Homo sapiens: one gene and its partners. The protein of the gene in region 3 interacts with the protein of the main gene of each other region in a pairwise test. Each region holds a gene or a part of one and is shown on either strand. Other genes may lie near its edges.

Region 1 (3,746 bases), on a different chromosome or scaffold from region 3:
GGCCGTCACCTGGGAAAAGGGCAAGAGGTACTCAGAATGTACCCATCACCTGAAGAAAGCGTAGAGGGGATTCTGTCTCCCCACAACTTTACATGTGTCCGGTAGGACTGCCCCTTTCAGGCAGCCCCAGGCTTGAATGCTCGTCCAGAGGGGAGGAGACGGTGGTAAAGGATCAAGGGCCTCCTTCTGGCAGGGCAGGCGAGAAACCTGGCAAAGCTCCCTTCCTGCTGCCGTCTCAGCCTCCGCAAAGACTGGGAGTACCATGGAGTACCGGGGGGGAAATATGGAGTACTGCCGAGGAACGTGGGAGCCACAGAGAGAGGCGCCGCACTGGTGAGGGCAGGGACCGCAGCCCTCCCCACGCGCCCCCAGCAAGCTCAGGTCTCCAGCGAAAGCTGAGTAACTGAGCCGGGGGAACACCAGGAGAGAGAACGGGGTGCGGGAATGGAGTCATACTGAGGACCCAGAGTACAAGAAAAGAGATCCAGAGTGACAGGAGAGAGTGTGAGTGGTGAGCAGAGTCACAGTGAAGGTCTCAGGGGGCAGTGGGGATCAGAAGGAAAAAGACCTGAAATACCACGAGAAGAGGCCCGGAGTAACGCAGGGGGCAGGGAAACATCGAGGGGCCCGGAGTTACGTGGGGCGTAGAATGACGCTGGGGAAGCCCGAAGTGACAGCAAGACCCAAGCAACTAGGGAGGGCGACCGGAGGAACTGTGGAGGATGCTCGGAGCCCCTGGGGCGGAGGAGCACGCGGGGACGCCTCCAGACAGCCGTCCAGCTCTGGCATAACCCGACGAGCCGGGCGCTCCGGGAAGGGGCACGCCGCCCGCCCCGCCCCGTACTCACCGGGCCCCGCGGCCCCGTCCATCCGGCCCCCGGGTTGCTCCGAGCGGCGGCGGCGGAGGAGGCGTCTAAGCCGCGGGGGCCACGGCCGGGGAGAGGGGAAGGGGAAGCACCCCGGGGCGCGCGCGAAGGGCGCCGTACCACCACCCCGAGGGGGCGCTGTCGGGCGCGGGGAAGGGGCCTGGAGGGGGCGCTGTGGGCCCGGGGCCGCAGTCTCCAGACCCCCCCGGGCCCTCGGACTCTCCCGGGGCCGCTCTCGGCTCCCGGGGGTGGGGTGGCAGGGCCGTCCGGTGCCACAGCGCCGCAGCACAAACAGGCGCCGGACGCGGAGCCGCCAGGAAGCGCGGGAGGGGGGGCGGGCCCGAGGGGGGGCCGGGCCGCTTGGTAACCCCTCCCTGTCCGGGCCTCGCCGCTCAGTACGGGGGCGGGGCTAGCCGGCTGACCCCCTGGCCTACTCCCGGCCTCCGGCTCCAGGCCCTTCCCGGATCCCCGCCCCCGGATTCCCAGGGGACGGGGAAGGGAGCGCCCGCCCCGATATCTCCGCCCCCCAGCCCCTAACCCCTCAGGGTTGAGCGGACCAACCCCACCACTTCCGCGAGGGGCAGGGGCGGGGTCACAAAACGGGCCCTCGGCCTAGGGGCGGAGTTTCTCGTAAGGGGCAAGGCCAAGGCATCTTGTATTGGGGCTGACAGGGGGGCGGGTTATTAGGGCTGAGGATGGGAGGATGCTCAGGGTATTGGGGTCAGGGTGGCATTAGCCCAGCTCAAGCCGGGCCGGGCTGACTCAGCATCCTGCCCCAGCCAGCTTCCATCCCTGACACCTCTGCATTCCCTTGGGCAGAGATGGGAGATGGCGCCGGTGTTGCCCCTGGTGCTGCCCCTGCAGCCCCGCATCCGCCTGGCACAAGGGCTCTGGCTCCTCTCCTGGCTGCTGGCGCTGGCTGGTGGCGTCATCCTCCTCTGTAGTGGGCACCTCCTGGTCCAGCTAAGGCACCTTGGCACCTTCCTGGCTCCCTCCTGTCAGTTCCCTGTCCTGCCCCAGGCTGCCCTGGCAGCGGGCGCGGTGGCTCTGGGCACAGGACTAGTGGGTGTAGGAGCCAGCCGGGCAAGTCTGAATGCAGCTCTATACCCTCCCTGGCGAGGGGTCCTGGGCCCGCTGCTGGTGGCTGGCACGGCTGGTGGGGGGGGGCTCCTGGTCGTCGGCCTCGGGCTAGCCCTGGCTTTGCCTGGGAGTCTGGATGAGGCGCTGGAGGAGGGCCTGGTGACTGCCTTGGCTCACTACAAGGACACAGAGGTGCCTGGGCACTGTCAGGCCAAAAGGCTGGTGGATGAGCTGCAACTGAGGTACCACTGCTGCGGGCGCCACGGGTACAAGGATTGGTTTGGGGTCCAGTGGGTCAGCAGCCGTTACCTGGATCCCGGTGACCGGGATGTGGCTGAGTGAGTGATTTGCGTCTCCCTTCCTCCTCCTCCTCCTCCCTGGACAGGCTCCCTCCTGCTGCCTTGAATCCCCACCTCGCTCAGAGGGGCAATAAGTAGAACATAGTGGCTGAGAGACTGGTTACAGCTCTGCCATTTATTAGCTGTGAAACCCAGGGCATGTTACCAAACCACCCTGGGCCCATTCCTTCACCTGTAAAATGGAAATAATAGTACTTATCTGATAGAGTTGTTGTGAAGATGTGAATTATGCTTGGCTGGCACATAGTACAGCAGTCAGTAAATGTTTTACTATTCTTTTTCCCTTCTGAACACCTGTGCCCTTCAGTCCCTCCCCCAGGCCTCTATCTCCAGACATCCTAACCCCTCTGTCCCTCCCTTTGCAGCCGGATCCAGAGCAATGTAGAAGGCCTATACCTGACTGATGGGGTCCCTTTCTCCTGTTGCAACCCCCACTCACCCCGGCCTTGCCTGCAAAACCGTCTTTCAGACTCCTACGCCCACCCCCTGTTCGATCCCCGACAACCCAACCAAAACCTCTGGGCCCAAGGGTGCCATGAGGTGCTGCTGGAGCACTTGCAGGACTTGGCAGGCACACTGGGTAGCATGCTGGCTGTCACCTTCCTACTGCAGGTGAGTCAGCAAAGCATCTGACACCTCCTCCCACCCGGGACTCCTCCCTGCCTCCAACCCTGGGCCTCTTGGAACCGCTGACTCTCCCTGACTCTTTCCCCTTGCTTCCCCCACAGGCTCTGGTGCTCCTTGGCCTGCGGTACCTGCAAACAGCACTGGAGGGGCTTGGAGGGGTCATTGATGCGGGAGGAGAGACCCAGGGCTATCTCTTTCCCAGTGGGCTGAAAGATATGCTGAAAACAGCATGGCTACAGGGAGGGGTTGCCTGCAGGCCAGCACCTGAGGAGGCCCCACCAGGAGAAGCACCTCCCAAGGAGGATCTATCTGAGGCCTAGAGGCCTGGAGCTTGGGGTGAGGAAGAGGGAGGGATGGACAAGTCTGAAAACCTCACAACTCCTTACCAAGGCTCCAGGTTGGGGGGATCGTAGGATTAGAGGGGCTAAGGATAGTCAGCGAGCTGGACTGGGGTAAGAAAGAAAACCAGATGTCCTAGGGCCTAGCCCTTGTAGTCAGAACCACCAGGGAACAGCAAAGAACAGAGTGATGGGAAAGTGACATGAGAAGGCCTGGAGGCTGATTCTGATATAGACTCAATAAAGTTTTTGGATGGAAGCAATTGCTTTTTCTTGTCAAGGGGATGGGGGCCTGGGAGAACTGATTTCTGTCTGATGGAGCAGCTAGGACTCCAAAGTTTGGACCCTGGCTCGACCTGTGCAGCAACAGGAGCCCACATCTGTAAGGATCAGAAAGCAAGAACCCAATGTAAGAAGCAAAGGAAAACAAGAGGCCCCTCCAGGTTGAGATTCTTTATTCTGGAGGTAGGAAGGGG
Region 2 (3,746 bases), on a different chromosome or scaffold from region 3:
GCCAACTCTTGCATCTGTACTCCAGGACCTATTCAGAAGACTCCAGTGAAGACCTAGCTTCCCTGGGGTTTGCATTAGTCTCAGCACCTTGAGCATGCCATTCCTAGTTCACCTCCAAGTATAAAGCATTAGTAGCAAAGACCCATTATTCTTTCCACCAGGGTAAAGAAGGCTTAGAGTGAAATGAATATAAATGGAAATCTAATACTGTAAATAAATAATGACTGATTGGGCAGCTGGGTCAGAGGCATCCAGCCTAAACAGATAAAATTCATCTCAAGGATGAGGACAGTAAAGATTCAAACTCCAGAGGGAGGTAATGGGACAAAAGGAGTTGCAGGCGTAGAAAAAAAAAGAAGCACCCTCAAAATATTCTCTGGGTTATCAGATGGCACAGGAGGGGCGTGGCAAATAAACTAAAATCCATGGTTCTTCACCCATTCTTTCATATTTTCTAACACGGCGGGAATACACTTTTCTAATTTCGTTTCGCCCAATTTAAGGAAAAGATAAGCAAGGATAAAAATTCCTCATATATAGCACAATTAAAAGGGAGCTGGGATTCTCTAACTTATTACCTTAATCGGCTACACAAAGATGAAGCTACATTTCAATCGACACCATGCGCTGGCACGGGAGTAACTCACTTAAAACACCACAATCCAAGGTCAATTTTTCTCAACTCCATTTATGACTGCGTAAAGATTTTATTAAATCTTTTTTCCTATTTCACACATCAATTCCTAGGGTCCACACAAACTCTTCCATCTTCTCCAAACTGGTATTTGGATTAAACATTATCCAAGATCAGTCTTTAAAGTAAATTTCATAATTTCATATAAAAGTGTGCACCACATTAACACTCAAATGTGTGTACAATTAAAAATATACAGACCAGCAACAGCGACTCTTAAATGAATTTAGACTCAAAGTGTTTTCACAGAGGTTTTTCTGCCGTCTTGGAGGGGTAGGAAACTGCTGGCATTACGAATCCCATTTCATGGCTGGGTAAACCGAGGCACTTAGGGGTTACAGAGGTAAAGATGGAAATAGAAACCAATTTCTCCCTCCGACTCTACGCCTGGTCCCTTCCCACTAGACTTTTCAGCACTCAGTGGCTAAAAATGGGACCCACTTGAGAACTGCAAGGGTAAATAAGAGCTACTTGTTTCAGAAGGTGGCGGCGGGGGAGGGGGACTTACCCACTTGATGCGCCCGATTGTGTGTGGGCTCTAACAAGAAAGCTCTCCCTGGATGCCCAAAGGTTTGCACCCACCCGCTTTAAGCTCAGACCCGAGAGGCACCGCCAGGCAGACAGGGCAGCCGGAATCGTGCAGCCCGAGAAACGCGAGAGGAATGCGGGGCGCCCGGGCGGCGCGGGGGCCGCGGGCCCCGGGACACCATTTGCTCCCGGAGCGACGCCGTGGCCCGCCGGGCGGGGACGATGCTGAGCCTTCCGCACACACCTGCCGGAGCCCGCCCGGGAGCCCCGGGCCGCCTCCCGCGCGCCGGACGCCCACCCAGCCTCCAGGCGCAGGAGCTCTCGGCCGCGCTAGGCCAGGGGCGGGAAGCCGCGGCACCCCTCTCCGCGGGCTGCGCTTGGCGGCTGGCGCGGGGGAGCCGCGGGGCGAGGCAAGCCCGCCTTCCTCCCCAACCCCCCCTCCAAACGGCGTCACCTGTGCCGGGTCCCGGGGCGAGTCGCGCGCGGGCGGCGGCTGCGCCGAGCCGGGAGAGGGCGGCGGGTGTCTACAGGAGTCTGCTCATCCGGGCCGGCCCGAGGGCTGGCGCTGGCCAGTGCCGCCCGGTGAGATGCTCACGGGAGCCAGGGAAGCCGCGGGTTCCGGGCCGCTTGGAGGTGCAGTCGCGGAGGCTCCAGCTACCGCGGCGGCCGTCGCGCCCGCCCGGACTGCGGGCTCGGGTTACCGCAGAGCTGCTCCTTAAAGGGGCCGCGGCCGCTCGGGCTCCGGCTCCCGCTCCGGGCGGCTCCGACCCTGGCCAAAGTGGGCGGGGCCCCGAGGCGGGCCGCCGAGCAGACCTTCTTGCCCTGGAACTTGGGTCCCGGAAAGAGCCCAAAAACCCTAACACCCGAAGTCGCAGCGGAGAGATCCTGGAAGCTCACACCTTGCCAAGGGCAGAGGGTGCAATTCCCGGGTTTTCCAAAGCAAGTCACAAAACTTGCCAGCGGGGGAACTGTGTGAGCCCGCCCCCGCAGCGGTCAGTACCTGGGCTAGCCACGTAACAAAAAATCTTCTTAAATTATGAATTTACATTCTGCCTTAAATGCTCAAATACTGGGGACTTCATGGTTAGATCATCAGAAAAGAGATGAAAAGGCAACTGCTGGTTTTTCTTGCCACGTCTGACACGGCCACACTCGAGTCCCGCCAGTTCTTCTTTGGGGCTGCAGGTGCATACCAAACTGGTAGGGGGCGCGTGTAGAAGAAGCGTGTTCTCTCCAGCACCACCTCCAGAATTCCTGAAAAACACCCTCATGGGTGCACCAGCACTACACCTACACCCGGAACCCCTCTGTTGTCGGGGTGTGGAAGTTGGATTTGAATATTTGGTGCTGGCTGAGAATTCCAAGTTGCCTAGTAGATAAAGTTTGACATTAAATAGATGTTCTGACCTGTTATATACAGCCCCAAAAGCCTCCAAGTGATCTGCATCAACCAGAGATAATTGTCTGAAACAAAACAAAATAACAAAGAGGTATACTCATGCATTATAATTCGCAGAGAGCAATCACAAGGCCTTTTCTTGAAAAGAGGTAAGTTCTAAATAAATAATTTGTAAACACTATCATTGATAACAGGATATTTATTTCTAAGAAATGTCAATAGAGCTAACATATTTGATCTACTATATACATGCGCAGAAAGACACACATATCTGCCGCAGATTTAGACCAGAAAATATATACACAAAAGCTCATATAAGCTGTCCATGTTTATTTTCAAGAGAGGGCAATAGAATTTAAATCAGAACCTGGAATTCTGTCAGTTTATTAGAGTTGTGTGCCTTTAGCTAACTGAACCTCACTGAGGCTCAATTTCTTCATCTTTAAAATGGTAATAATAATTCATAGTGACTCTGAAGACCTGGACTGATGTGGAAAAGACAAAATCTATACCACAGAACAGGGAGGGACAGAAACCTGCCCTGCAGTCAAGCAGAGAGAAAGATCTTTCAGGCCCCCAAATGCGTGTTCCCCTTTTTCTCCCCAAGACTCTCAGGATGTACCAGGGCTCCAGTGCTCTTTGAACCACACGGTGTCCCATCATAGTCCCTTCACAATATGTGCAGTACCTGACAACTTTGGTTTGCGCAATAGCTACCTTGTGCACTCACATAGCTATTTCATAACTCTCTGTGGGCAGGATGGTTATATGTGAACATCTGTGAAGTCAGCCCAGAAAATACCAATTTCACAGTGTCCTCTCAAGAGTCTGTATCAACACTACCTCCTACAGAAACTCTCCCATGCTAGTCTCTGGTGGCTGATAGTAGCTCTGTTCTTTCCTGATAAATGCACCATCATTATCTTTGATATGCATAATTCTCTAACACCAACAGCAGTAACCAAAGCCAGGTAAACCCACAGAAATCCACTATACTCTATGTCCCACTATATTCCTTCATATTAGGCCTCTACAAATGCCTCATGAAAACTGCAAGATTGTTTTTGAGATTGTACAGAACATATAAGTTAATATATCAAGGACAAGGCCTGAGCTATGAGAGGA
Region 3 (3,746 bases):
TTTCTTTTCAAGATGGAAGATACTTGAGAAGGGTTTTAGGCTGTAGGGAAGGAGAGGCAGAGACACTAGTGGAACTGTGACATGAAATCCCAGAGGATAGGCCAACAGTGGCTCACACCTGTAATCCCAGCACTTTGGGAGGCCAAGGCGGGGCAGATCACAAGGCCAGGAGTTCGAGACCACTCTGGCCAATATGGTGAAACCCGTCTCTACTAAAAATACAAAAATTAGCCGGGTGTGGTGGTGGGTGCCTGTAGTCCCAGCTACTCGGGAGGCTGAGACAGGAGAATCGCTTGAACCTGGGAGACAGAGGTTGCAGTGAGCCGAGATCGTGCCACTACACTCCAGCTTGGGCGACAGTGGGAGACTCCGTCTCAAAAAAAAAAAAAAAGAAAAGAAAAAAGAATCCCAGAGAAGAAAGTAATAGACTGGAAACAGGACAGAGGATTAACCTCCAATAGAAGGGAAGAAATTTCCCTTAGTTGGTAGGAGGGAGCTGAGGATGTTTGAGGTGGGAGACTGAGGAAATGCTCAACTTCTTTTGAAAAGAGGCAGGGACACTCAGTTTGATGCGGTAGAGGCTTGAGGGAGAAGAAAAGGATTGGAATGGGCTACCCTTGAGCAAGAAGGATTTCCCTTTGGAAGGGTGTAAATGAAGTAGAAAACTTCACACATCTGAACTGTCACCAACTGCCACAATCATGTGGGCCCAGCAGTTAGGTGCAGCAGCAAGGGCACCAGAATGGATTAATCACAGATGGGTTTATTTAGTTGGGGTGATGAAGTTGCTGATGGAAAAAAAGCCTTGGCTAAGGAAGGAGATGAGATAAGGGGCCTGAGGGACTCCCTGGGAACCAAAGGAGGTCCCAGGCCAGGGAGATGGGTGAAGAACAGGCAGGGCCGGAAGGATGATGTAGTCCTAGTGGGAGTTTGATTTCAGTGATGAAGCAGTTCTTTTCGCTGACGCGGACTACGGCAGTGGATGGCTGAATTGGAGCACAGAGGAAAGCTGAGGTCAAGGAAGTTAAATAAATGGTATCTGAGAACCTACCTCTGGTGATGGTCATATCGGTGTCTCCGAGGGTCGTACTCGCCCCCCACGTCCACCACGATGTCACAGGAAGCGAGTTTTTCGGGATCCCGGGTCCGCACAATCTCTGCATCCTGCGAGGTACACAGGGGTGAAGGGGCTGCCGGGTGTCGCCGGGTAGGGGATTAATGCTGGACTTCAGGGAGGCAGGAAGGGTAGGAAGGGTGCTTGGGCTGCCGGGCGCTATCGGAGTGACCCTGTTGGCGGAATGCCATCCACCCCGGAGGCATGCATGCACGCAGTCCCAGGGTCACTTTTCGCGGACCGTACCCGGTACTCCGGCAGGAGGCGAAGCAGTGCGCATGCCAGTGCCTCGTCGCAGTGGAAGGTGCCATTGTGCGTCCCGATTCGGGGCGGTGCCATGAGTTTGCTGCGGGATCGTTTTGGGGGCGGGACGGACTCTGGACCGAGCATGCGGTGCCGGGTATACAGGGGTGGCGGCGGCAGCAGCAGCGTTAAGAGGCCGCGCAGGAATTGGTGTCCCATAAGCAGCTCCCTGCAGGGAGGCAGGAGCGCCGACCCGGAAGAGGAAGCGCCAGCGCAGCCCCACTTCCGCTTGCCAACCGTTCCCTTGGCAACCAGCTCTGCAGAGTGAGCAGCAGCAGACTCCCAGCCTAGGATTTCTTCCAGCTGGTCAAAGGGCCCTGCGATGGAGCCTCCAAGAGGCGCATCGCATCACCCCTGCGCATCAGGCTCTGAGACGGGGCCCACACTCTCGACCACACCCCCCATCTCATCACCAGTCCCTTGCTTAATCCAAGAAAAGACCAACATTCTGCCCAGCTGGCACATTTATTGGCATTAAAACACAAGACCCTTCCCATCACCAGGAAGCCACGCCCAAAGGGTGTCCCTCTGCCCCATTTCTGCAAAAACTCTCAGGCCTTAGCAGTAGCCTGAGCTGCCCCCAGGGCTGTGAGCTGCTGAATCTTCTGACTCATCATTTCCATGACGGCTGTGGAAAAAAATAAGAGTCAAAGGTTAGAAGCAAAAAGGAGAACCTAGAGTTAAGGAGAAGTGACAGGCAAGTTTAAGGACAGGCGACCGACTAACTACAGTTTGTTAATAACCTTTTTTTTTTTTTTTTGAGACAGAATCCTGCTCTTGTCACCGAGGCTGGAGTGCAGTGGCACGATCTTGGCTCACAGCAACCTCCGTCTCCCGGGTTCAAGCGATTCTCCTGCCTCATCCTCCCGAACAGCTGGGATTACAGGCATGCACCACCATGCCCGGGCTAACTTTGTATTTTTAGTAGAGATGGGGTTTCACCATGGTGGCCAGGCTGGTCTTGAACTCCTAACCTCAGGTGATCCACCTGCCTTGGCCTCCCAAAGTGCTGGGATTACAGGCGTCAGCCACTGCGCCTGGCATTGTTAATAAAACTTTAACTCAGTGATCCACTGTGGGGTCACTAACACAAATTTAGGGTCTACAATGCATCGGTCAATATGCTAACACAGCTGGGTGTGGTGAGAATGAGACTCTTCTCGGAAAAAAAAAAAACCTGCTAACCAAAGATATAAAAACGAACACAATATGGTATTAAATGAGTCTGACATAATCAGAAAACTATGATGGGGAAAGATTTTTACCTTTGGAACACTGGTTCTGAATCCTGATTATAACAGAGGGGAGCTTTTTTAAAAAAAAACAGACCTTGGTACAACTTCCCCTCCTTTGACTTCCAAGTTGATTTAGTCAATCTGGAATGGGCCCAAGCTTTCTTTTTAAACTTCCTGAGTGATTCTCATGTGCAGTCGGGGTTATAATTGCTGGTATTTAGTTCGTTTGGATCATGATTCCTTCCTGTGTGTTCATCTCATTCCCCCATTCCATCGTCATTAAATAGGAGCTCCACCAAAGCACAAACATGATTTCCTTCCTCTAAATTTCTCAAACGCTCAACCCAGGAATCTACAGATAGTGATTATGCAATACACAGATTCTAAAGATGCCAAAGAGAAACTAAGACATAGTTTTACTCCAGCAAAGGGGACACCCCCGTGGTTCACACTGCAATCCATGTTCCTTATTATGGAGATAGGGTCAAGAGGTGCCCCAGGAAAAACTTACCCTGTTTCATGGCGTGCTTCTCCTGAAGAGCTGGTTGGATTTTCTCCATCTGCTTGGTTAGAAAATCTATCTTCCTCTTGAAGAAGTCCTTGGCATCCTCAGCTGTCTACAAGATCAGAGGTGAATAAGGGGCTAAAAGGAGACTCCCTCTGGCCATGCTGCGCTCTAGAGCTTCCCCTGAATTTCCCTTCCCTGTTTAGAGGGGCATCCACATGCTCTCACTCACCTTCTCTACATAGTACCCAGTTCCCACATCGATGAGCACGTGTTCCACATCATGCAGCTTCCCAGGGACATACATCTGAGAAGCAAGAATTAAGGGAAAAACTAGCCAGCCCAGCATGAGCCATGATTCCGCCAGCCAGCCTGCTTGGCCTCCAAAGACCCTCTTTTTCCAAAAAGCTACAAGGCATAAGGACTGAATAATCTGGAGGCCTTAGAACAATACCTATAACTCCAAATGGAAAGAAGACAGAGAAGTTGGTTCTTTAAGGAGAAAATGATGTATGCTGGAACACCCTCTTGTCCTGCCTCATCCCATCTCTCACTCTCTAAGCAGTTCTTGCAATTCTTCCCATTAGCC

The links.
Region 1: the proteins of MYG1 (region 3) and ROM1 interact in binary tests that used the Homo sapiens proteins (3 or more experiments, as listed by UniProt).
Region 2: the proteins of MYG1 (region 3) and TLCD4 interact in binary tests that used the Homo sapiens proteins (3 or more experiments, as listed by UniProt).

What each region holds. Positions count from the first base shown.
Region 1 is NC_000011.10:62,611,588-62,615,333, forward strand, and holds ROM1 (rod outer segment membrane protein 1), read left to right. Parts: upstream 1-1,669; 5' UTR 1,670-1,694; coding exon 1,695-2,284; intron 2,285-2,670; coding exon 2,671-2,917; intron 2,918-3,033; coding exon 3,034-3,252; 3' UTR 3,253-3,529; downstream 3,530-3,746. Other genes in the region: EML3 (echinoderm microtubule-associated protein-like 3), read right to left, coding at 1-9, 93-264. UniProt on the Homo sapiens protein: Plays a role in rod outer segment (ROS) morphogenesis. May play a role with PRPH2 in the maintenance of the structure of ROS curved disks. Plays a role in the organization of the ROS and maintenance of ROS disk diameter.
Region 2 is NC_000001.11:95,115,548-95,119,293, reverse strand, and holds the start of TLCD4 (TLC domain-containing protein 4), read right to left. Parts: upstream 1,940-3,746; 5' UTR 1,677-1,939; intron 1,372-1,676; exon of another isoform or gene 1,203-1,371; intron 1-1,202.
Region 3 is NC_000012.12:53,297,568-53,301,313, reverse strand, and holds the start of MYG1 (MYG1 exonuclease precursor), read right to left. Parts: upstream 1,620-3,746; 5' UTR 1,577-1,619; coding exon 1,361-1,576; intron 1,165-1,360; coding exon 1,052-1,164; intron 1-1,051. Other genes in the region: PFDN5 (prefoldin subunit 5), read right to left, coding at 1,969-2,045, 3,164-3,269, 3,390-3,464. UniProt on the Homo sapiens protein: 3'-5' RNA exonuclease which cleaves in situ on specific transcripts in both nucleus and mitochondrion. Involved in regulating spatially segregated organellar RNA processing, acts as a coordinator of nucleo-mitochondrial crosstalk.